Homo sapiens: one gene and its partners. The protein of the gene in region 3 interacts with the protein of the main gene of each other region in a biochemical or structural test. Each region holds a gene or a part of one and is shown on either strand. Other genes may lie near its edges. The genes, in order: S100A11, UBE3A and ANXA1.

What was found.
Region 1: the proteins of ANXA1 (region 3) and S100A11 form a complex in vitro, tested with the Homo sapiens proteins (2 studies listed by BioGRID).
Region 2: the proteins of ANXA1 (region 3) and UBE3A form a complex in vitro, tested with the Homo sapiens proteins (one study listed by BioGRID).

The regions. Positions count from the first base shown.
Region 1 is NC_000001.11:152,033,608-152,041,322, reverse strand, and holds the start of S100A11 (protein S100-A11), read left to right. Parts: upstream 1-4,318; 5' UTR 4,319-4,407; coding exon 4,408-4,410; intron 4,411-7,522; coding exon 7,523-7,675; intron 7,676-7,715. UniProt on the Homo sapiens protein: Facilitates the differentiation and the cornification of keratinocytes.
Region 2 is NC_000015.10:25,365,859-25,373,546, forward strand, and holds part of UBE3A (ubiquitin-protein ligase E3A), read right to left. Parts: intron 5,955-7,688; coding exon 4,708-5,954; intron 1-4,707. UniProt on the Homo sapiens protein: E3 ubiquitin-protein ligase which accepts ubiquitin from an E2 ubiquitin-conjugating enzyme in the form of a thioester and transfers it to its substrates.
Region 3 is NC_000009.12:73,147,557-73,155,426, forward strand, and holds the start of ANXA1 (annexin A1), read left to right. Parts: upstream 1-4,308; 5' UTR 4,309-4,368; exon of another isoform or gene 4,369-6,767; coding exon of another isoform or gene 6,768-6,786; intron 6,787-7,870. UniProt on the Homo sapiens protein: Plays important roles in the innate immune response as effector of glucocorticoid-mediated responses and regulator of the inflammatory process. Has anti-inflammatory activity.

The DNA of each region.
Region 1 (7,715 bases), on a different chromosome or scaffold from region 3:
CCCCGAAAATGTTATTCAGTTTATGTTCTCTATCTTGGGGATGGTACTGGTACCACAGGGCTATCAAGCTAGAGTCCTAGGATTCACGCTTGATGCCTCCTTCCTCTAATGCTCCACAGCTGAACAGTGGTGAAGTTAGGTTGGTTTTGCCTTCTCAGTATTTGGTAATTCCCTCTCCCCATCTCCATGGCCATCTCACCCTGGTTATTGCAACAATATTCTAATATTCTTTGCCTCTAGTCTTTCTTCTTTCTAGAACATGTTTTCTACAGTTCCAAAAGTGAAGGGGATCACGTCACTGTCCTGCTTAAAAATCTTCAATGTTCCTTGATACATAACCCTAAGGTTACAATCCAAACTTCCAAGTATATCTCCTAATGAGCTGACCCTTGTCTCTCCCATCTCACATCCCACAGCTTCTGCCTCACATTTACCATCACCCCATACCCTAAGTCTGGTTCTACTGAACCACCTGCAAGTACTGAGAACACGAACAATGTTTCATCCCGAACCTTAATTCTGCACAAGCCACTATGTAAAACTTCCTCTGAAGACACTGCTGTAAGTCCTAAGCATTAAACATGAATTAACTCTTAATCCTCACAACAACTACTATTCTCTCCACTTTACAGATGAGGAAACTGAGACACAGAGCCAACAAATAACTTGCTAGATTTCATATAGCTAATACGTTGTGACACTGGGATTTGAACCCCAGTCTTGTGGCAGAGCCTGTGGCTGTAAATACTGTGCTATCTTGCCTGAGTTCACCTTTTTTCACTACCATGTTCATCCACCTGGTGAATTCTTATTTATATTTCAATACCCACCTCAAGCAGCACTTTTCCAGGATACTTTCCCTCCTCTCCCAGAGTTAACCTCTCATTTCTTTCCTGGCATTTGTCATTGTGTCTTGGTCACACCCCTGTTATTGCATTTGTCACTGTACTGTGTCCATTTCAGAATCAACCCAATGCTACACAGAGATCAGACTGCACATAAGAATTACCTTGAGCCATGGAAGTTCCTACATTTATTTCCTGATAAGCCCTTTTACCCATCTGTATATTATTTTTGTCTCTTGCTGTCAGTTTACCAGCTCTCACTCATCCTCAGCTCCTTGCTGGCTCCAGCCCTTCAGTTTGATTCATTGTTTGCCTGCTTTGACAAATCTACCTTGCCTGCTACCTTTCCTGAACTCTCCCTCCTTTGACTGATAACCTAGAAATGAACCCCTTTCAGCGTGACCCTGGGGAGCAGCTGTCAAGCAGGCAGCCCTAACTGGGTGGGGCTGATCCCCCAACCTGGCTCTGAACAAGTCATACTTATTTGGTTTAGCTTTTTCCTTTGGTTTCATTCAAGCTACTTCATGGGGCTGAAGAGTTATTGAAAGAATAAATGTCATAGAGAAAGTAAGAAAAACTAACAACTAGGTTTAGGAAGAACAAAAACGCTAATGAAGTCAGACTGCAGGCTCTTCACTCCCAGTGGTTCACCATTTTCACAATTCAGCGAACACCCAAGTAGCCTTTTCTTTAATTTACAGTTAGCAATTGGCTTACATTCCCCTCTGTCTATTTCTTCCAAATTTCATAGCTTCCACTTACTCATGATGTCTTCTCCATAAGTTTTATTTGCCATGACTTCATGGTTCTGTCTATGCAAATGTTCAGCTTCAGCTCTTCTAAATGCCTAATTTTCTATGTGCTTCTAATTTCAGTTTCCCAAAAACAAGAAGCTTTTTGGCCCTAGTTCATCTTTCCATGTTATGTCATGAAACATCCACTACCAGCCATCCTATAGATTGGCAGTGCTGGTGTCCAGACTAACTTCAACCCAGTCCACTCTAACAGGGTCACAGTGTGTCAAATCATGCAAAACTTGGCCACCTGGGCTGCCCCTTGAGCACAGGTTCTAAGTGAGGCATTTTCTCTTAAAAAGAACTATAGTGGCCGGGCGCAGTGGCTCTCACCTGTAATCCCAGCACTTTGGGAGGCTGAGGAGGGCAGATCACGAGGTCAGGAGTTCCAGACCAGCATAACCAACATGGTGAAACCCCGTCTCTACTAAAAATACACAAAAAATTAGCAGGGTGTGGTGGCGCACACCTGTAATTCCAGCTACTCAGGAGGCTGAGGCAGGAGAATCGCTTTAACCCGGGAGGCGGAGGTTGCAGTGAGCTGAGATCACCCCGTTGCACTCCAGCCGCCTAGGCAACAAGAGTGAAACAACGTCTCAAAAAAGAAAAAAAAGAAAAGAACTGTGGTGTGTAAGGCCTCATGATTGAGTTATGGAGTAATTTAGACAAATGATTCCTTAATATGTTGGGATCATAAATTTTTCTGAGAATCAGATGAAAGATGTGGACTCTTCGCCAGAAAAATTTCTCTTATGCAAAAAATTTACATGTAACTTTAAGGTATTAAGGAACCCCAGCAGCCGTTCATGTAACACCCCCCACCACCAAAGGTTTGAAGTCTATTACCTGGCACTTGATAAGAACTGTGAGTCAAAAAGGCATTTAGACTCAGTGGCTCCAATGCTTTCAAGCAGGGAAAATGGTAGAGTGATAGTACCCTTAGCAGAGAAGACAGAAACAGGTTTGGGGAAAACTAGTTATTCCTGAATTATTGAGTCTGAAGTGCAGGTGGGACTCTCAAGTGGATTCATAAACAAGTAACTGAAAATGTGGGTCTGGAGTAGCTGAGAACTGAGATGGAGATTTGTCTCACGTGCTCAGGGCACCTGTGAGAGCAGGTGCAGGGAAGCAGTTCACACAATGCCTATAGCCCATTATCTTTCATTTGCGTCTACTCTGCAGTTTTTGGAGACCTTTCTAAGCCCTCACTTTACTTGACAGTCCTAACAATCTTATGAAACAGGAAAGGCCTATCTCAAGACCTATTACAAATAAGGAAGTGGAAGCTCAAAGGAGTGACAAGTCTGGTCAAAAGTATTGCAATGAAGTAACAGACACAAGACTGGAACCCAAGTCTTCTGATTCTTAATACAACTCCTAATTTCATTGCAAACTGCACACAGATAAATGCCTTACTAGCACGGATCAATTTTTAAGTGCAGTAGTTTGGTTTTCGGATTTTGTCTTTGTGGCTGTCCTCAGTTTACAGAAAAGTTTGAGAGAGAGGGGTGGCAATTGTCCCTTGACAATAATCCCCAGTAATCCCGTGGCAATTGATTTGGCAATACTCACCACTGTTTACTGTTAAATATCTTCCCTGTGGAGCAATAGAGAGCCCCAACTCCTAGGAACTTGTCTACAATTCTGACCCGCACTCTGTCCTAACTAACACTCTTGGTTTTGTTTTTTGTTTGTTTGTTTTTGAGATGGAGTCTTGCTCTGTCGCCCAGGCTAGAGTGCAGTGGCGCGATCTCGGCTCACTGCAAGCTCTGCCTCCGGGGTTCACGCCATTCTCCTGCCTCAGCCTCCCGAGTAGCTGGAACTACAGGCGCCCGCCACCACGTCCGGCTAATTTTTTGTATTTTTAGTAGAGACGGGGTTTTGCCGCGTTAGCCAGGATGGTCCCGATCTCCTGACCTCGTGATCCACCCGCCTCGGCCTCCCAAAGTGCTGGGATTACAGGAGTGAGCCGCTGCGCCCGGCCTGTTTTTGTTTGTTTTTTGAGACATTGTTCCGCTCTTGTTGCCCAGGCGGCTGGAGTGCAACGGCGCGATCTCAGCTCGCTGCAAACTCCACCTCCCGGGTTCAATCGATATTTCTGCCTCAGCCTCCCAAGTAGTTGGTATTACAGGCGTGTGCCACCACGCCAGGCTAATTTTGTATTTTTAGTAGAGACAGGGGTTTCACCATGTTAGTCAGGCTGATCTCAAACTCCTGACCTCATGTGATCTACCCGCCTCGGCCTCCCAAAGTGCTGGGATTACAGGCCTGAGCCACCGCGCCCGGCCCACTGCTGTTTCCAAAAGAGACCTTTTTTGCCTATCTAACCTAAATGCCCAGAATGAGCTCATACATGGGAAAGACCCACGGACATGGACAGACTTCCCGAAGACTACTGTGCAAAACTTATAATTCTAAAAAGTCAAAAATCTTCAGGAATCACAGGACGGGGTGGAGGGGGCCGGGGGGAAAGAGGAGGGAAAAGAGGGAAAGGAGGGAGAGTGAGACTGCTTAAATCGCTGGAGAGGACGGTGGGTTTATTTGAGTCTTAAAGCTCAGTTCTGTGGTTAGCGCCGGCCGCGGTCCCAGGCCCAGCCCGGGAGGCGGGGAGGGGCGGGGCAGGCGCGGAAGCTGTCTGAGTAAGGCTTGGGCAAGGCTGGGCCGGGAAGGGCGTGGGTTGAGGAGAGGCTCCAGACCCGCACGCCGCGCGCACAGAGCTCTCAGCGCCGCTCCCAGCCACAGCCTCCCGCGCCTCGCTCAGCTCCAACATGGTAAGCCTCACTTTTCTTCTTCTTCTTCTTACATGAAAAGAAAAAGAAAAGAAAAAAAACCCACATACTTCCCAGCAGACTTTATCTTTGACTTATGTGTGGACGTGGCAGGAAACAGCAGGAAAAATCAGCCTCGTGGGAGGGAACTGGGGAAGAAGGGATGGAAGGATGAAGCCCTAAAATCATCCTTGGGGTGGCCGCCTAGGGTAGCAGCGGAGGTTCTTTAGCCTTCCCAGTCACGACAAGGCCCAGGGCTGGGGAAGAGGAAGTGCTGGCCGCTCACCGCGCGGGGGGGGGACCCGTCGTGGGTCACTGCCTCCAGCCCCTCGCCCGCGGTCTCCCGGGAGCCCAGAGACGCCTAGGAGCAAGTTTAAGGCAGGGGGCTGGAAAGCTGCGAGGGGTCACTAGTTATTTCTGTACACCAGAAAAGGGACATTTTAGAACTTGGTCGTCTAGCCCCAGGGAAAATCAAAGTTTCAGTAAGCACCCGGCAGACGGCCAAGACCCAACGGGACTGAAACTTTAGCCCGTCGCCGCCCGCAGCGCCGCGGCCAAGAATGTGGGAGGAACCCGGTCCCAGCTGAGCCCTCTCCTCCTTCCTCTTCCTTTTACCCCACCATCTATTTAGGCACTCACTCCGTAACTTATTTTTCTCTTCTTATCTCCTTTCATCTCCCAGTTGAACTCATATTTTCCATAATTCCACCTCCAAAATCTCTTTCTTTACCTCTCCTTAGTGGAGAGTCAGCAAACTGGCCCGCGGGCCAAGTCGGGTTTTCTGTTCTGCCCACAAGCTAAGAATAAAGTTTACATTTGTAAATGATTGAAAGAAATCAAAAGAAGAAAAATACTTTCTGACATGTGAAAATTATGTGGAAATCAAACTTCAGCGTCCATAAATGAAGTATTGGAACAGAGCCACGCCCATTCCCTTCCATACTGTCTGGGGTTGCAGTCCTGCTACAGCAGGGACAGAAAGCTCCGGAGGGTGTTGGTTAAGAATGAGAAGACAATAGTTGAGGTTTTTAAAATTGCTACGTCTTTTTCATCGTATTTTTTTCTTTCCTCAAATGTTGAGCGCTTAGCATGCATTTTTAAAAATTATTTCACAGTATCCGTTTATCATAATGTTTGCTCCTTGCTATCGCCATCCCCACCAAGTAAGACTCCAAGAGTGCCATGAGGTGTGGAGAGCGCCGGTTCTCCTCTCCTTCAGCCACTGCGCCACCCTGGGCAGAGCTTTCCGGTTTCTGGGCGTCCTCAGGACCCATCTCCAAAGTGCCCTGGAGCTCTACAAATTATGCCGTTCCATTTTAGTAATTTGATAATTGTGTCTCTTTCTTTCACTTTGGAGAATTACCTCTGGGAGGAAATGCAAAGAGGTTTTAATTTTCTCCTTGTGGCTGATAGCAACAGCAACAGTTTTCAAAAGAAAATAATCTCTAAATTACACCAAGACTGATGTTAAGGAGAGAAAAATGTGAAGCAGAAAGGCACTGTGAAACTGGAAAAGCAAAACTGTCTGCATTCTGGAAGGAAAAGGGGCAGGGGGAGAATCTGTAGTTCCAGAGAAAGGTGACAAAGCCCATGCTCCTCAGCCTGGTGTGGCCTCCCAGCCAGTCTCCTTCCTGTCATCTGATACCTTAGTAAGACAGGGAGATTTTAGGCCTGATATGAAGGGCATGTTGTAACAGAACAAACACATCTGTTTCTAGGCTGTGGTATTTTGTTTCTCCCCTAAAGGCCCCTGAACCTACCAACACTTTTCTTAATGAAAAGTTCAATTTAGAGCAAAACAAAAACAATCATCCTCCAACAATGTGATTCTTGGGAAAAAGTCCACCTCTCTTAGGGTTCAGGGGTTCTAACGCTGTAAGATGCAATGGGAGGCAAGACTCAGCTAGGATCTCTGCAGCATAAAGGCTGTACAGGAAGGAGGAATCAATCTGCAGCTGTGTAGCTAAGGGCTCAGATCAGTTCTTAGCACGTGTTAATTACGGAGTGAGAAAGCCTCTAGCTCTGGCCTCCAGGAAGTCCATCCTAAGAACAAACGAAAGGCTAAATGCTAAGTTGCAAATGTCACCATCCAAACATAAATCATTGTTAACGCTAGTAGGTAAAGTCTCAGAGGAAGGGTGTGGCCAGGCCGGTTTCCCAGAAAGTCTGTAATTGCGGCTTCTACCCACCAGAGGGAGGCCAACAGCTCCTCACTTTTGGGACCCTAAGTCCCCTTGGGGAACCGGATGACTGGGCCCTATAGAATTTCCTTGAAAAATTCTGCTGTGAGGAAAGAGCCCAGTACAGGATTTAAATCTCTTACATTGTAGATGCTGTGTAAGCAGCAACCTGAGAGCTTCCTGGTTTGGAGTGACCTCCAGAGAAGCTCCACCTTCTCTGTCACTATTTCCCACCAGGAAGTGGAAGCCTGCAAGGCTAAGGACTGCAGAAAGGGACTGGGAGGCCCAGATTCCAGGGCTGGCTCTGCCATATCCATTCCCTTCTCCTGTCCGTTTCCTCACATCTAAGATTAATGGTTCCTAACTCTTAAATATGAAAGCCATTTTCAAACATCTAAAAAGTTCTATCTCCCACTGCATACACAATGATAGCTATGCTTTTAGTTTTCTCTAAGGAAATGTGTGAGTCCCAGGAATTCGGTATTGCTTTAAAAAGAACTGACATTTCATTAATCACAAAAGCCTCCATACACTCTTGGAAAATAAGAAATTATTAACCTATAGACAATGTTTGGTGTGCATATGGATTTGTGGATATAGAGTTACACATGTATTTATCCACACATTTTAAAAATATGAGTAAACCTTGTCACCGTCACTCTCATCTAGGCAGTCTACTGCTTTTAAACGTGCCAGCAATGCTCCACATTTACCTTCCATATATTTCACCTGGAATAAACATGTGGCGAGGGGTAGGACGGAAGGTCACAGAGTGTGACTTTTTGTGGTTGTCTTGAACCCCTCAGCCCCTTGAAAAAATGACTCAGTCTTTTAGGAAACTGCTTTGACCTGAAATAAGAGTCCCTGGAGTTTTCTCCAGTATCCAGCCTTGACATCTTCCCTTGTCTGAGCCCTGCAATTTTTTTTCTCCAAAGGCAAAAATCTCCAGCCCTACAGAGACTGAGCGGTGCATCGAGTCCCTGATTGCTGTCTTCCAGAAGTATGCTGGAAAGGATGGTTATAACTACACTCTCTCCAAGACAGAGTTCCTAAGCTTCATGAATACAGAACTAGCTGCCTTCACAAAGGTACTGGTCCCTGTCTCCCCCACTTCCCCAAACTACCCAC
Region 2 (7,688 bases), on a different chromosome or scaffold from region 3:
TTCATGTTCACGATAAACACATGAAGAAAAGTCTGTTATATCTCAAATGTAGTTTAAATGTTTGGGTAACACCAAATCACATAATCACGTTCGTCCATGAGACCTGGAATCCTGACTTCTATTTCCAATTCTGCCATTAATTTATGTAGGCTGGAATCTCTTTTAGATTTCATTTTCCTCACATGTAATACTAAGTTTGATGTTTCATTGTCTTAAATTATTATATAATGCTGAGGATCTATGTATATATAGGCTTCATTCTCTCATTCAGTTTCTGAGAAATTACTTTGAGGGCATAAACCAAGCATATTTCTTGGTTTCATTTTTGATTTCAATTAGAATAAATCACAAGAAAGAACAATGGAAATTACATGTTAACCACAATATAGTGTATGTGTAAGACAAAATTAAACATACCTAGTGCAGCACAGAATAATCTCATTTTTAAAGCTCTGTGAGTCAATGAATAAATAAAAGAATTACGTTCATGTTTCACTAGTAAGAGTGTTCACCAATGCTGGAAGCTGGGAGCTGAAAATGCTGGAAGCTGGGTTAGACTAGGCTATTAGAAACCAGATAAAAAGGGCCAGTGACTTTTAGAGGGGATTTTGCAGAACCTCCTGGTAGTGGGGCTTTTTATCTGTGCCAATCACCTTTATCTGTGCTAATTCCTATTTTTGAACTTCCCTATTCAATTCCACATCTCAGCCATTCCTTTTGGTTTTTAGATATTTATGTGAAATGCTAGAACTCCCTGACTAATTGGAACCAAGTTTCACATCATCATCATCCTCTATTCCAAGCTTGCTGTCCCCATGATCCTCTTAAAAATCTGAGTTTCCAAAACACATAAACATACTTGTATATCAAAATGGCCTTTCTCTTTCTCTCTATATATGCACACATACACACATAAACACACATGCACACACACCCCCACCTGAGCTGAACCAAAGGCCATCTTCCCAAATATTGGAGTCTGGCTTTATCAAAATATTTGTGGAGTATTACCAGAAGTTCAGATTCATAGGCTCTACAATACAGCTTCTAATCTAAACCTCTAGAGGTTAGGGCCCTGGATTTTATTTATTTATTTATTTATTTTTTTTAAACAATTTTCCCATTCAGATGTGAAGGCAGTTTGAGGGACCTCATGATGGCAATACTATATTCTTCCATAAACTTATAACCTCTATCTTCTCCTTTAAGAAGTAATTTAAAAAATCTTAATACATACTATCATTGGAAGTGCTTCATCTAAGAAAAATGAGAAATTATCTACTTGTAAAAGAACACACAAATGGGTATATTTACATATTTGTAAATATGTAAATATTTACATATTTGTAAATATGTAAATATTTACATATTTGTAAATATGTAAATATTTGCATATTTGTAAATATGTAAATATTTACATATTTAAATTAAATTAATTTACATATTAAATTAAATTACATATTTATATTAAAAATGTAAATTTGTAAATATGGTTTTACATATTTGTAAAAACCTCATCACATTAGGAATGTCATTCAAATGAAAGGTGAAGTCTAAGCTCATGTTTATCACTGTACTGTTTTCTAAGGAACAATAACGAAAAAATACTGAAAATAAGTCCTAGGGGAACTATGGCAGTAAGTTAAACGGGTAGGGTGGGGGTGTTCTTAAGCAGTTCTAAGGTATTTGTGAAGAGACAACTTATATTCTATTGATTCTAAAATTCACTTTTTTCACATTATCTCTGAAATCAGATTACACCATACAAATGATAGCATCTTACAATGAATTGCTGGTATTTTTCTGTCTTAGCAGTAATAAAATGATAGTGTTTCCTACAATCAGAGATTAGTGAAAATACTATCAACATGAATTCTTCTCTTGTCATCAAAGACAATTTCTCTAAAAACCTCAGGAAAAAAGCTGCTAGTCTGGTTTGAATTTCACAATATATAAAAGCAATGAATATATTTTTCTTTTTTAAAAAAATCCACAATTATTAATTCAAGTTACCACTCCTCAACAGAAAACATACAAGAGTCTCATATATGAAGTCACTATTTTCTGGGCTTGATTTCTAAACTAAGGAGTGGATAACTCTAAGGTTTCTTTTAGCTCTTAAAGCCTAGGATCCCATAATTTTATTTATCAATATTAAGCTTACCACAAAGTTTCTCATTTCTTCTTTTCCACCCAACCCTGCTATACAATTCCAAAATTAGCAAGTCATAAAAAAGTGGCCACTAGTTTGTTCACTGTGATATATAAGAATGAGGCTTAAAAAGCAGAGATCCTTGGGAAATAAGATCTTGAAAAATTCATCACTTTTGAGCTTTCATATGAGAGAATAATCTTAAACCACTTTCTATTATAGAACTTCTACTATGTGTTACTAAAATATGTGGCTTTATCATAATCATCACCTGCTGTGAATACTTACTTCAAAAAATTACACAGGTTATCAATTTTACTTATAAGACCTATTTCGATGCTGGTTTTTCTAGTCTTTTCACATTCTGTTATTTTTTTAAAAAAAAGAAAAGGAAGAAAAAGCAAGGGAGAAAGAAAGTTAAGAGTAAAATCTGCTTAGTGTGAGCATTCAGAGCCCCTAAGGAAGCTTCTCTGTAAGCATCATCTCTTTCTATTTTCACAGTTTATTAAACTGCCTAACACACATGATTTCTGAAGTGAACTGCTTTTGTGGGCTGGCAATATTCAAGTACATATACTATCTAGTGAATCCTGATTTATGATAGGCCACACTATATTATCTAATTTTGATATAATTAAGCAGAACTTGCTAAAAACAAGTTACCATAATTAAAGAGCTCACAGTTAATTTTACACTAACACCTAAGGCTTTAAAAGCAGTTGTTTCCTTAAAATTCTAGAATAGAATTTAAAATATAGAATAAAGTATATACCAAGTACTTAAACTTTTGTTTTTAGTCTTGCTTTACTAGAGAAAAAAATGGGGGACTGAGGAAAATAAGACTGAGTAGACTTCTGAGCGAAAGACAGATAAGGAAGGTAGACAATTTTTTGAACCCTGGAATGATTCTTACAGTGTAATTTCATTGCCTTTTAAAGGCTAGACATAGCTTTTGATGAAGACAGCTGAAGGGATCTCACCTCAAGAAGCCAAACATAAAGTATGTAGCTTTGGCATTTGCAGTTCTGCTCCAACAATGGATAGTCATAGACAGACCTCAACATACCTTTCATAAAACATCACTCACATTCTTATAAAATACCCTATCATTCTGCTAAACTATGTAAAGTAAGGTGCTGGCTGCCTTATGATCAGTCATTAAGTGTATTAATTATTCATGTGTCTCAAAACTATGTAAGTGAAATAAAAAGGGTACCAGAAAGCAAGCAATAATAATGACTTCAGGCAGTTAAAGCCCCCTTTTGTCTCTGCTAGAAAACCACCTGAGTTGCTTAAATAATGCAGAATCTTTCTCCAACACTATAAACATATCTGACATTAAAAAAAAAAAACAAACCAGTAACAAAAAAAAAAAAAACACACAAAATCTCTGCAATTTTTAATTTCTGAGATGTCAAATAACTTTTTCCACCGGGCTACAGCTTTATGAATTCTCGAATTTAGACAATTCTAAAACTAAAATTTAGACATTCTAAAACTAAAATACATTTTAAAGTAAAAATCACATTTCCTAGTTGTCTGTGTCAGACAACTTTACTAGTATACTATAGTATTATTAACTACCTTAATTTTTGTTGACATTAAATTTTACTTGAAGATGATAAAAAAGTAGCAGCAATGACAGGGATAGCTAATACTAGAAATACAATAAAGCTCTGCGATAATGCACCTGAGACAAATGTAAATTTTGGTGAAATGTGACTGACGACTGCTTTCTGTCTTCTGGCCACTCTTATATTCTTAAACAGATACACTAAAATTATCTTGTGGAGGAAAGAAAAGGAACAAATGGCAACCCCATCTGGAAAACCAGGAAGTTAGGATGAGTACCTGAGTTTCCAGTATTTCCCTGCTCAATCTCCCTGGACTTGATGTTACAGGCACCACTAATCCCCAGATTTTTGGAATAGCTGCTGTTTTCCAGAAGTTCCAAGACCCAGAGTTGTCTCTATGAATTTTTAAGTGGGAAGAAACTACCACAGCCAGGCAGTGCCGTCCACACAGGGATATTCTAAGTGGCCCAGCAGGACTCAACTCTTACTGGCAACAGGCACTGATCTGCCATGGTCACTTCATCAAGTCCACAATAATGCAACTCTGAATTTTACACGATGGAATTTTTTGGACACTACCTATAATTTTATGGTATGGTTTTACTGTACCATTACTCCCAGTTCAAGACTGCACATCCACACTTATTATTGGGTATCTCCACATTTCTCTTGTTCTGGTCTTTGTCCAACACTCTATTCTCTTCTGAATGAAAGAAACTTTGGATTTAGTTTTCAAGATTTAGAAAACCCATTCTTTTTCAAAGATAGCATGACCATTATATAATACAACCGATACTTTGTAGAACACATCTATAAACTTGCACAGGAACAACAAAAGTATAATACTTATATAAGATCAGAAATGTCCATGTGTTCCTATGCTATATGGTATCATTTTTTTCAGTCACTTTTAAAATGAATTCACTGAACTGTATCATGATATCCCCATTATTAGGTTTTTAATCTAGCAGCCCAACTTACCCGGACAAGTGCATCATCTATGATATGGTCACGTCTAACTTTGAGTCTCAAATATGGATTCAACTGCTGTCCTTGAACTAAGCTGTAGAGAACAGTGATTCTTCGTTCACTGTACATGCGAATTCTATTGTCATAATATAATCCCAAATTCTTTGTGACAGCATTCAATATAAAGGGACATGTCATAAAAGAGAATTTGTTCTCTGTTTCTACTTTGAAAAAAGTATAATCTTTATCCATTTCTAGAACCTCATTCAGTGGTTCATTAATAAACTCTTCAAAAGGGATAAGTGGTTTTCGACAATCCAGGGTTTTAACACCAAGTTCAGTTTCCAGGGGGTCCACTCGAGGACCTTTCTTGTTTCTTCTTTCTTCTCCCAAAAGTTCCTGAAGTGTCAGCTCGCTGGACTCAGGGATGGGCTCTTCATCATCTTCTTCATTGTGATTTGTGTCCACTTCCCCTCCCACTACATTTGCATAGTAAACCATTTTCAAGCACTTCGAAGCAGCAACAATGGCATCATCATCATTCACTAGATTTCGACTGTTAAATTCATTGCTTATGACTTTATAAGTAATAAGTTGCTGAAATGTCTCCATCATTCTCCGAATCTGGTCTGCATTGTATTTAGACCACAGTCTGATCAGTTTTCCTTGGGCTGCAAGGGGTAGCTTGCTCATCGCTTTGCAAAATAATGGCAAAGCCATTTCCAGATATTCAGGACTGTGGAGATTTCTATTCTCCATTACGATAATGAACAAATTCAGATAATTAGGATCTCGAGAGTATACATTGTGATACGTCAAGTCACATTCCACGTTAGGTGACAAATATACAAGTGCATTGAGAAAGGCAGTTTCAATTTTTTCATTAGAGAGCAATCTGGTGTAGACCCTTCTAATGGCATCAATATCCACAGACACATCATCAGGGCCTAATTTTTGCAAATTGTTGTCTCCCTGTGAGCTATCACCTATCCTTGAGGAAGATGCTTCTGAGTCTTCTTCCATAGCAGCAGCAGAACATGCAGCTTTTTCCTTTTCATCTTCATCTTTGTCTTCATCTTTTGCTTGAAGAGATTTCAGTTCTTCCTTGGTGTGTTGTTTAACTTTCCGGAAGCTCTGTACCAATGCCTCAGCACTAGAAAAAACTCTTCCAATAACACGGATTAAAGGGGAATAATCCTCTCTTTCTCTACATAATTCAAGAATTTCATATACCTTCTCTTCTGTTAAGTAAGTCACATCTAGAAAATCAGAGGAAAAAAGAGAACATTTATTTTCATAATATGTATGTTTACTCTGTTGCAAAAAGTTCTAAAAGTAAAACAGCCAAACATTCTAGGCTCAATATCATTTATGATATACAACTCTTAAAGTATCTAATACTTAGATTCAGCAAACAAAATTTAATGCTTACCTATTTTTTTCAATGAACTACCTACCTATACCAATGACCTCACCCATGCTTTTACATTCTTTCAACAATGTATAACTCTTAATAAGATCATGAGTTTAAACTTTCTTTATAATCAAGATATCTATTAATGTATAGCTTTAATTATAAATATGAACCAATATGTCATGTACTGATTAATCATAATACAGCTCTTAAAACCTCACTGTAGAACACACAGAAATACTACTAATCTGTGAGTTTTCTTGTTTCAGTACTCTGTTCTCCAAAGACTAAGAAGGCAAGGTCTTAAAAAAAGGCTCCTTCAGCATCTATGTATGTATTAAAATCAAACTGGTTCATTTTGGGTCTTCCTAGTTTGTTCCAGGGTAGTCATTCTGTGAGTGATTGAGAAGAATATACCATTTCTCATCGGCTCTTAAGTAGAAACTGCTTTCCACAGCCAGGAATCAGGTTAGACTAAATCTCATAGAGTGACAGAAAATAGTTTTTGAGCAATGAAAACAAACAGTGCAAAGAAGTAAACTTATGAGCTGGCAAGCAGTGCAGAGACTATGTAGTCATCAAAATCTATTTCCTCTTTTCCTGGGCACAGAGTTGGACCACATTTCCCAACTTTTTGAGATAAGTGTTATTTTCAGGCCAAGGCTTTCTCCCTTCTGGCTAATAGGATGAAAGATATTTCATTTCACAGGTAAAAACAAATGATATATTTTGTGTACTGACCAACATAATACTGAGAATAGTCTTAATTCTCCCTTTTATCAATAAAGTGACATACTTGTCATCATCAGATTAACTACTTGAGAGGTTAATTTTAGAGGCACACAGACAATCCTACCTCCATTGCGCCAAATATACCCTTATACATGTAGTGTACAACATGTAGAATTTTTAATGACTCCCACCTCTGCTATAATATATGTTTCACAATGAAAGACAATATAAAATGTAAGTGATCATTGAATGGTCTCCAAAAATTGAAGCACAAAAATACCAAATTTTATCATACTAAGGATCTGATCTGTGGCCCAGCTACAAGAGTACCAACACTTACAGTTTCTTTTATGGGCCTTAACTCTTTAAGAACTAATTCTCAGGTTTGTTCTATTAAGAATATATAAGCATCTTTTGCTAAACATCAGTAACCTCTTCCCCAAAAGCATAAAACCACTGGAAACCTATTTCTCATTATTTTCATTGAAAATTTTTAAAATACCTTCTTACAAGACAATGCAAAACTCCTAATTTCCTAAAATGTAACATAACAGAAAATACTACTATCCTATTAGGACATGAAACACTTTGCTTCCTGAGCAAGTCATAAGGTTAACAAAGACTTGCTTTGCATGCAGTAATATGGCCTGTCCTAGGGATCACCATTCTAGACTCACATGTCCTTTGTTGATATGTCATGCTTTCGGAACATCTTCAAGTGATTCTGACAGTCTACTAATCCTATATAGAATGTACCTATACTTTTTCCAAGGAGTGTTTTTTGTTGTTGTTTTTTGACATGGAGTCTCACTCTGTTGCCAGGTTGGAATGCAGTGGCACCATTTCG
Region 3 (7,870 bases):
TAGAGAAATTTTAGGTTTACAGAAAAATTGAGCAGAAAGTACAGAGAATTCTCATATACTCAATTTCCCGCTGCTCTTAGTTTCCCCTGTTACTAATATTTTGGATTGATGTGGTCCATTTGTTATATTGGTGAACCAATATTGATACATTATTATTAGCTAATTGCCATAGTTTACATTAGGGCCTACTCTTCATGTTATACATTTCTATGTGTTTTGCCAAATCCATAATGTATGCATACACCATTACAGTATCATACAGAATAGTTTCACTTCCCTAAAAATCTCTTTTTTTTTTTTTTTTTTTTGAGACATAGTCTCGCTCTGTTGCCTAGGCTGGAATACAATGGGGCAATCTTGGCTCACTTTAACCTCTGCTTCCCAGGTTCAAGTGATTCTCCTGCCTCAGCCTTCTGAGTAGCTGGGACCACAGGCGTGCACCACCACGCCCAGCTAATTTTTTTTTGTATTTTAGTAGATGGGGTTTCATCATGTTGGTCAGGCTGGTCTTGAACTCCTGACCTGATGATCCGCCGCCTCGGCCTCCCAAAGTGCTGGGATTACAGGTGTGAGCCACCATGCCCAGCCCACTTCCCTAAAAGTCTCTTATTTATTACTCCTCCCTGCCACCAACTCCTGGCAACCATTGATCTTTTTACTTTCTCTATAGTTTGCCTTCTCCAGAATGCATCTCATTGGAATGAAACAGACATAGCCTTTTCATACTGTCTTCCTTTACTTAGCGATACTCATTTATGATTCCTTCATTTCTTTTCCTGGTTTAAAAGCATTTCTTTTTATCATTGAGTAATAGTCCATTACATAAACGTACTATAGTCCATGTATTCACTTACCTCTTGAAAAATATCTCAGCTGCTTCCAATTTCTGGTAATTATGAATAAACTGCTATAAGCATACATGTGCAGGTTTTTGTGTAAACATGTTTCCTAACTCATTTGGGTAAATATCTAGGAGCACAATTGCTGGATTGCATTGTAAGACTCTGTTTATCTTTGTAAGAAACTGCCAGACTATTTTAAAACAGCTGGAACCTAGAAAGCAGAGTTTGACCTTTTGACCTTAACACATATCTTCATTTTCCTTCTGCAAAACTTCTTGAAAATTATTGAAGTAAAATTTGTTATTATAGCGAATGTGACAAGGTCTTATTCTCTTACTTTCGAATAATATAGAGAGGGATATGGATACTATACTCAGGGATTAAACAAAATAACTTGTGCAATACAAAATTACTAATCCTAGCATGATCCTGATGTTGGAAGTATACTAGTTGAATCACCAAGTCATTCGCTGACTTTTCCTAAGTCACACAGTAATAGATACTAAGCCACCACCAAATTTGAGTTTTTATCTTCTCTAAGATTTTCCACCCACAAAAGGAAATATAGAGAGGCAGGGAGGTAAGATCTTTTTCCCTAAGTGAAGTCCAACAAAGGTACCTCCCTTTGGCTCTAGCTACCCACATGACTACTTCATTAACCTGAAAGAGTAAAATTTGAAAAAAAATTCTGTCTTTAATTCATGTGAATAACTGAGGAATAATAATAATAATAATCTCAATAACTCAGTGTGTGTGTGATAATTATTTGCCATGTTTAGAGGCAAAGGGAAAACATTTAGAATGTTAGCCCTCAAAATGCTTTGACCTGGGGACACATGAGAAACACACACTAAAATAATGATTTTTGTTGGCTGTGGATAGGGGGTATGAGGAAGCTGTGGGGAGATTTTGGAATATCTGTGAAATGCTGTTCTTGATCATTCAGAATATACTCTTTCTTCCATATAACAAGTAATGCTTAGATAGAGTTAAATGTAAAGGATGAGGGGACAGCTTACTAAGATCAGATATTTTGCAAGAGTCTTATGCACAATGAGATGTATGTGAGAGACTCCATATTTCCTCTCCTTGTTTTGTTTTGTTTCCTCTTCACTATCAGATTCTAAACCAAATGAGTGAAAATAAACATGCTGTGAAAAACGTAACATATAGAGATTGATTTTAACTGTCTTTTTTCTTTCCTTCTCTTTCTTTATTTTCTCTGTTTGTAAAGTAAGTGGAGCCGATGAATCATCATCTTCTAGAAACAGCAAGAGTGGTGAGTCATTTCTCTGGAGTATGTGGCATTTCACCCACAGAAAGCATTTAACCCATGATTATCCCCTCACTGTTAATGATAACATATTTTACTTGTTCTTTTATTTCCATAAATCTACTCGACATTATTATTATGCGGAGAAAAAGATTCTGACAGATTATTCACAGCAATATACCTACATGATTAGTGGCTTTCTTTTTGTGTTATGTTTGGGAGTTTCACTTGCCTTTAGTGTTACAGCTGGAAGTTAATTTTGGAAAAACATTCTTTTCACTTTTTTTTTCTTAATTCTGCTACAATTATCATATTTATTGTTGCTATTTTAGGTTTGCCTATGTATTACAAATCCAAACATATAAAATAATTCCATTCAGTTTATGGCACTGGTAATAGCAGCAACAAAGCAAAATGAGACTATACATGTTTTCTAGGTTGTTATATTTTATAAAAAGTAAGTGGAATTTTTTCTTCATTTCACAAGAGCATCACTGTGCAGGAATGTTCCAATAGTTCCATTACCAGAGTTAGGAATACAAACGCAAATTAAAGAAAAAAAGAAAACCAGATTTTGTATAATCATCTTATTCCTTCTCACCTGATGACATAAATATGGTATTAGAAAGTTAGTCTACATCTGTCAAGATCAATTTGCAATAATATCAATTAACTTAACTTGTTAGCAGGTAACTAATTAATTTTCAACTTACACATATGATAGTAAAAACATATATTGACATTTTCTTAAATATTTAGATTAGATGATCATCCTACTTCAGGATATGTTGACTTCATTGATATTGGCATCGAGCACTTAGAATGTATTATAAAATACTGCCAATCTTTAGAAAGTATTTTCATTAACTTCCTAAACTTCATGTTTTTTATGTGAAATATCTATGAGGAAAAGAGGAAAAAGAACAAACCACTAAATGCAGCATAAATTGAGCCATAATGCTGTGAGATTTTACACCTGTGCACTTTAATGGAAACATCATATAATACTTTGTAGGGTTTAAAGAAGAATGAAAATGAACCACTATGGAAGTTACCAGAACCAATTTTCCTCCATTGGGTGGGAAATTTCTTATGGAATGTGTTCTGTAATAGTTGCTGCTCCATTAATCCTTTCATTTTATAGGTCTAGTTCCTTGTTTTGGTGTTCAACTAGTCTACAATGTCAAAGATGTGTATCAAAATGTATATATAACTGATCTATATTACAGTTTATATATATAGTTCTATGTAACTGACTCTATTTAAAAGAATTAATGTAGATAGGCCTTCTGATGTCAATGCTTTTATTGAATGTCATAATGATCAAATTTTTGGCATTACCTTTGTTCAAAATTTTGAGCCAATCTGGAACTTTATTACTTCTATATTTCTTATTTATAACAACAAGCTATATCTAGGAACAAAAGTCGTTTATTTTTTAAGGCAAGAAAAATATAAATAGAAAATTATTCGGCACTGTGTAATGTTAAAATTTACAAATATATGTTATTTCTCCATTGTCACAAGAATTCTAGTGGGTAGACAACTTAGATAATGCTCCTATATACAAAAGTAAAAACAGCTAGGCATGGTGGCTCACGCCTGTGATTCCAACTCTTAGGGAGACAGAGGCAGGAGGATAGCCTGAGCCCAGGAGTTTGAGACCTGCCTGGGCAATATAACGAGACCCCATTCTCCACAAAAAGCGGGGGAAAAAGACAACAAAACAAAAGTAAAAACAGGTTCAGAAAAATTAAGTATGTCCCTAAAGTCACAGAATAATAAGTGATGGAGGTGGAATTCAAATGTAATATTTTGTTTGTTGGTTTGTTTAGTTTTGAAGGTAACATACTTTTTAGTCTACAACCTATTTAACTACAAAAGTGTGCCAATCACTGGTATTAGGATTGGGGCAGATGTATACTCTGAAAATAAAAGTGCAAAATAAATATCCCATCTGGAAATAAAAGTGCAAAATAAAGAGGGAGGAAAAATCAGCCCTTCCATTTCTTTTCCTTTGTAATGCCAGTTGAATTGGTTTAGTGAGTAGTTTTGCAAGACTTGTTTCACTTTGTTTTTGGACATAGCTGAGCCATGTACTTCAAACAGAAGGCAGCCAATTACTAACTTCTGGTTGCTAGGTGTGGCTTCCTTTAAAATCCTATAAAATCAGAAGCCCAAGTCTCCACTGCCAGTGTGAAATCTTCAGAGAAGAATTTCTCTTTAGTTCTTTGCAAGAAGGTAGAGATAAAGGTAAGTCTTGGTTTTCCTTTTAGTTAGTTTTGGTTGTTTTGAAAACTTTTCTCATCACTATGTTAAATGTTACTGCTTCTACAGGATTTATGGTTAGTTGCATTTAACATGATAAGTCATTCATAAATCTTTCTGTAGAATTACATTGGATATTTATATTTTAGGAATCACAAATTACAATATTTTTGTTCTACTTAGTTAACAAATACAAGTAAAAATAAGATAAGTTTGCTTAATACTGGCTCATTGTACTCTTGGTAAGTTACCATGAGAAAGAAGGGAAGAATGTGCTTTCCCTCTGGTAGCCTTAAAAGAATGTGTTTTTCCTTTCCTTCCCCTTGAAATATTTCTTCCCAAGAGCTGTGTGTTTTACAGAGAAATCGTGATGGGGGCTGCTTTTTGGGGGCAAGAACAAAAGTGATAGGAGTGGGCTGCAGGGAACTGTTTCAAAATAGTAGGACTTTCATAATTTATTTTCTTCTTTTGTAAGGAAAACAAGATAGATTCAGACCTCAAAGTGCTAATCATGCTCTTTGTAATAAACATTTAAAAATATATGTTATATTTGCTTATGCTATTTAAAATAAGAAGGTCCGCTTATTACTTTTTTCATTTAAAGAGGGTGTGGCCACATTCCTTTTCTTGTAGGCTCTGTGTCATATACAGTCTTTTCAAGTGCTGGCTGGAAAACCTAAAAAGAAGGGAAATACTTTCTGGGTAGTGTCAGATACATTATCCTAGGGGAATGTCAGTGAGGCCCTCCAACAGCTATTCCACTTGATTGTTGCATGAGCTAATGGCCATAAAACTCCTTAGAAAAGCACAAAGCAAAACTAAAGAAGAGTATTTACTAGTGTTGGATATATTTGTAAAAGTGAGATTACAAATCATGTATCTGGCTATTTTTTTCTTAAACATGTTCCTTCAAGAATTTTTCTGTTCGTTCATTTTAAATATTTATTAAATGTTCTGATTTCTTATGTTCACTGCTAGCTAATTAACAAGGATGGAATTTTTCTTGCCTTGGTTATATCTAAAAGATTGTAAAAACTTTGAGAAAGCAATGTTGCCCTCTTTCCACAGGAGTATTTTGGTAGCTGTAAGAGAATGCACATTGCAAATGACTCAAATGTGGTAAAATGTTGGTTTCATAATTCTGAAATGGCCTCTTCCCCAAAAGTGACAGTAACACCCTAGCTCCAGGCTCAACCACATCCAGCACATAGCCAACATTTAACAGATGTTGACAAAATAGTTAATAATAATATTATTAAGGAACCAGCCAGAGTTTCATGCTTATTAAATACTTTTTCAACCAGAAGGTCTGCAAAGGTTGATTTCTGAATATGACGTTAGCTCTCTCTAGACCTATTAATTTACGACATTTCAAATCAGAGGTAAACCAGCAGACCTATTATTTTTCAATGATAAACTATAAACAGTTTTTTGAAGTCAACTATTTCCTTTTCCTTTAAAATTGGACAGAATTTCATCAGGAAGCTCAGAACAATCCAATTTATATAATGCCTTCCTTCATTATGCTAATTTTCTTCATCTTCATCTACTTGAAGTAATATTTAAGATTGGCACTTCAGAGCTGTAAATGGATCTTAGATGATAATTACTTCAACATTCTTATTTTATAAACGAAGACCCTCTGGAGAAGCTAAATGTTTTTCTTGAGGTCAGATCGCCAGATAATCAAGAACCAGTATACTTCAATTTGTATTTTATATCCTATAGTTGTGGGTAGAAAATGTTCATTAAATTAGTGTAGATATGTTTTTTAAAATATTAGCAATGATACATGATATTCATTCAATAATACTTATTAACATCCTAAATTCCAGGCATTTTGCTAGGGATTGGAAGTACATACATAATGAATATTATTATTTGTATGTTAGCACGGGCCTCATGGCCTGCTCCTGGGGAATATAAACAAGCCAATGGAAAGTGATAATACAGAAAGGTGGGGCTGGTGTAGGGGTGAAGTCAGGATGCTTTGGGAGAGCATGGAAGGTCACCGAATCCAGTGCTGAGGAACTAATGAAGGGTTTCTGAAGAACGTGATGAGATCAATGCTGATGAGTCACTTAGAAGTAGCAATTAGTTAGGCAAAGGGAAGTGAATGTGGAGGAGGAACAAGCATTCCAGGCAAGAAGAACACCCTATCGAAAAGCCTGGAAGCAAAACATTAGTGAGGCTACCTTTCATAAATTGCTTTCTGTAAGTCATGCCATTGTGTAGTCTTAATTGCTTTCTCTCACCAGGGAAGGTGTGGGAAGGACTTGTGAAATACATATTCGAGGAAAAACTATGCACAAGGCCGTGCATTTAAAAATAAACTCCCTAAGGCTGGGGTGAAACCTGCTACGGTCTGCGCAAGTTGACTGTTAATGAATTTGATTCTCAGGTGTGAGTGATTAAAAGAACACTGATCATGTCATTTTCTTTTTGGTCACTAATTCCCTCCCTCCCTTCTCTTTCTTTTCTTTTTTCTTTTCTTTTCTTTTTCTTTCTTTCTTCCCGACAGAGTCTTGTTATGTCGCCCAGGATGGAGTGTAGTGGTACAATCTCGGCTCACTGCAGCCTCCGCCTCTTCCTGGGTTCAAGTGATTCTCCTGCCTCAGCCTTCTGAGTAGATGGGACTACAGGTGCACACCACCATGCCTGGCTGATTTTTGTACTTTTGGTAGAGACGGGGTTTCGCCATGCTGGCCAGGCTGGTCTTGAACTCCTGGCCTCAAGTAATCTGCCCACCTTGGCCTCCTAAATTGCTGGGATTGCAGGTGTGAGCCACCATGCACAGCCAAAATATATAACACTTTGGAATCAAAAGGGATGGATTTATGTCTCCATTCTTGCCACTACTAGCAGGAAGACTGCTTGAAAATAGCACTCAGTTTTCCCAGATAGAAACTGAGGATAATGATTAAAGGCTATTATTCCAAGCAAGGGTTAGTCATTGCTGTTACTATCATTGCAAAACTCTGATAGTTCTAGATTGTAACCAGGAAGATACAATCAACCACAAAACTCAGCTTCCTCTGTCACAAATTCTAGATAGAGGTAGCCTTTCATGAGGCTGAGAGATGGAAAAATGAAGCGGGGGGACTCTCTTAGGACACATAAATATGCAAAAAAATTGCTACGCTTTAGAAAGCTATACATTCAAATCATAGATAAGCTGACATTAGTAGGCAGTGCATGTTCACAAAAAGACCATTAATTAGAAGAAATGTGAAATATTGTTAATTTCCTTATAGATTTGCCTATGTATAAATGGCCAATTTCACCGTCAATGAGCTCATGCTAAGTACTGAAATAAACTTAGTTTTAGAGCTTATCTTTGGTTAGTTGAAATCTGTATTGAGTTAGTTGAAATCTATAAGTTGATAGAACAGGCTCTTTAAAATCTATTGCAAGCTTTATACACTACAAACAAAAAGATAGAAAAAAGAAAACCTTTCATGAACTCATTGGCTTAGGCAGGTTTTCA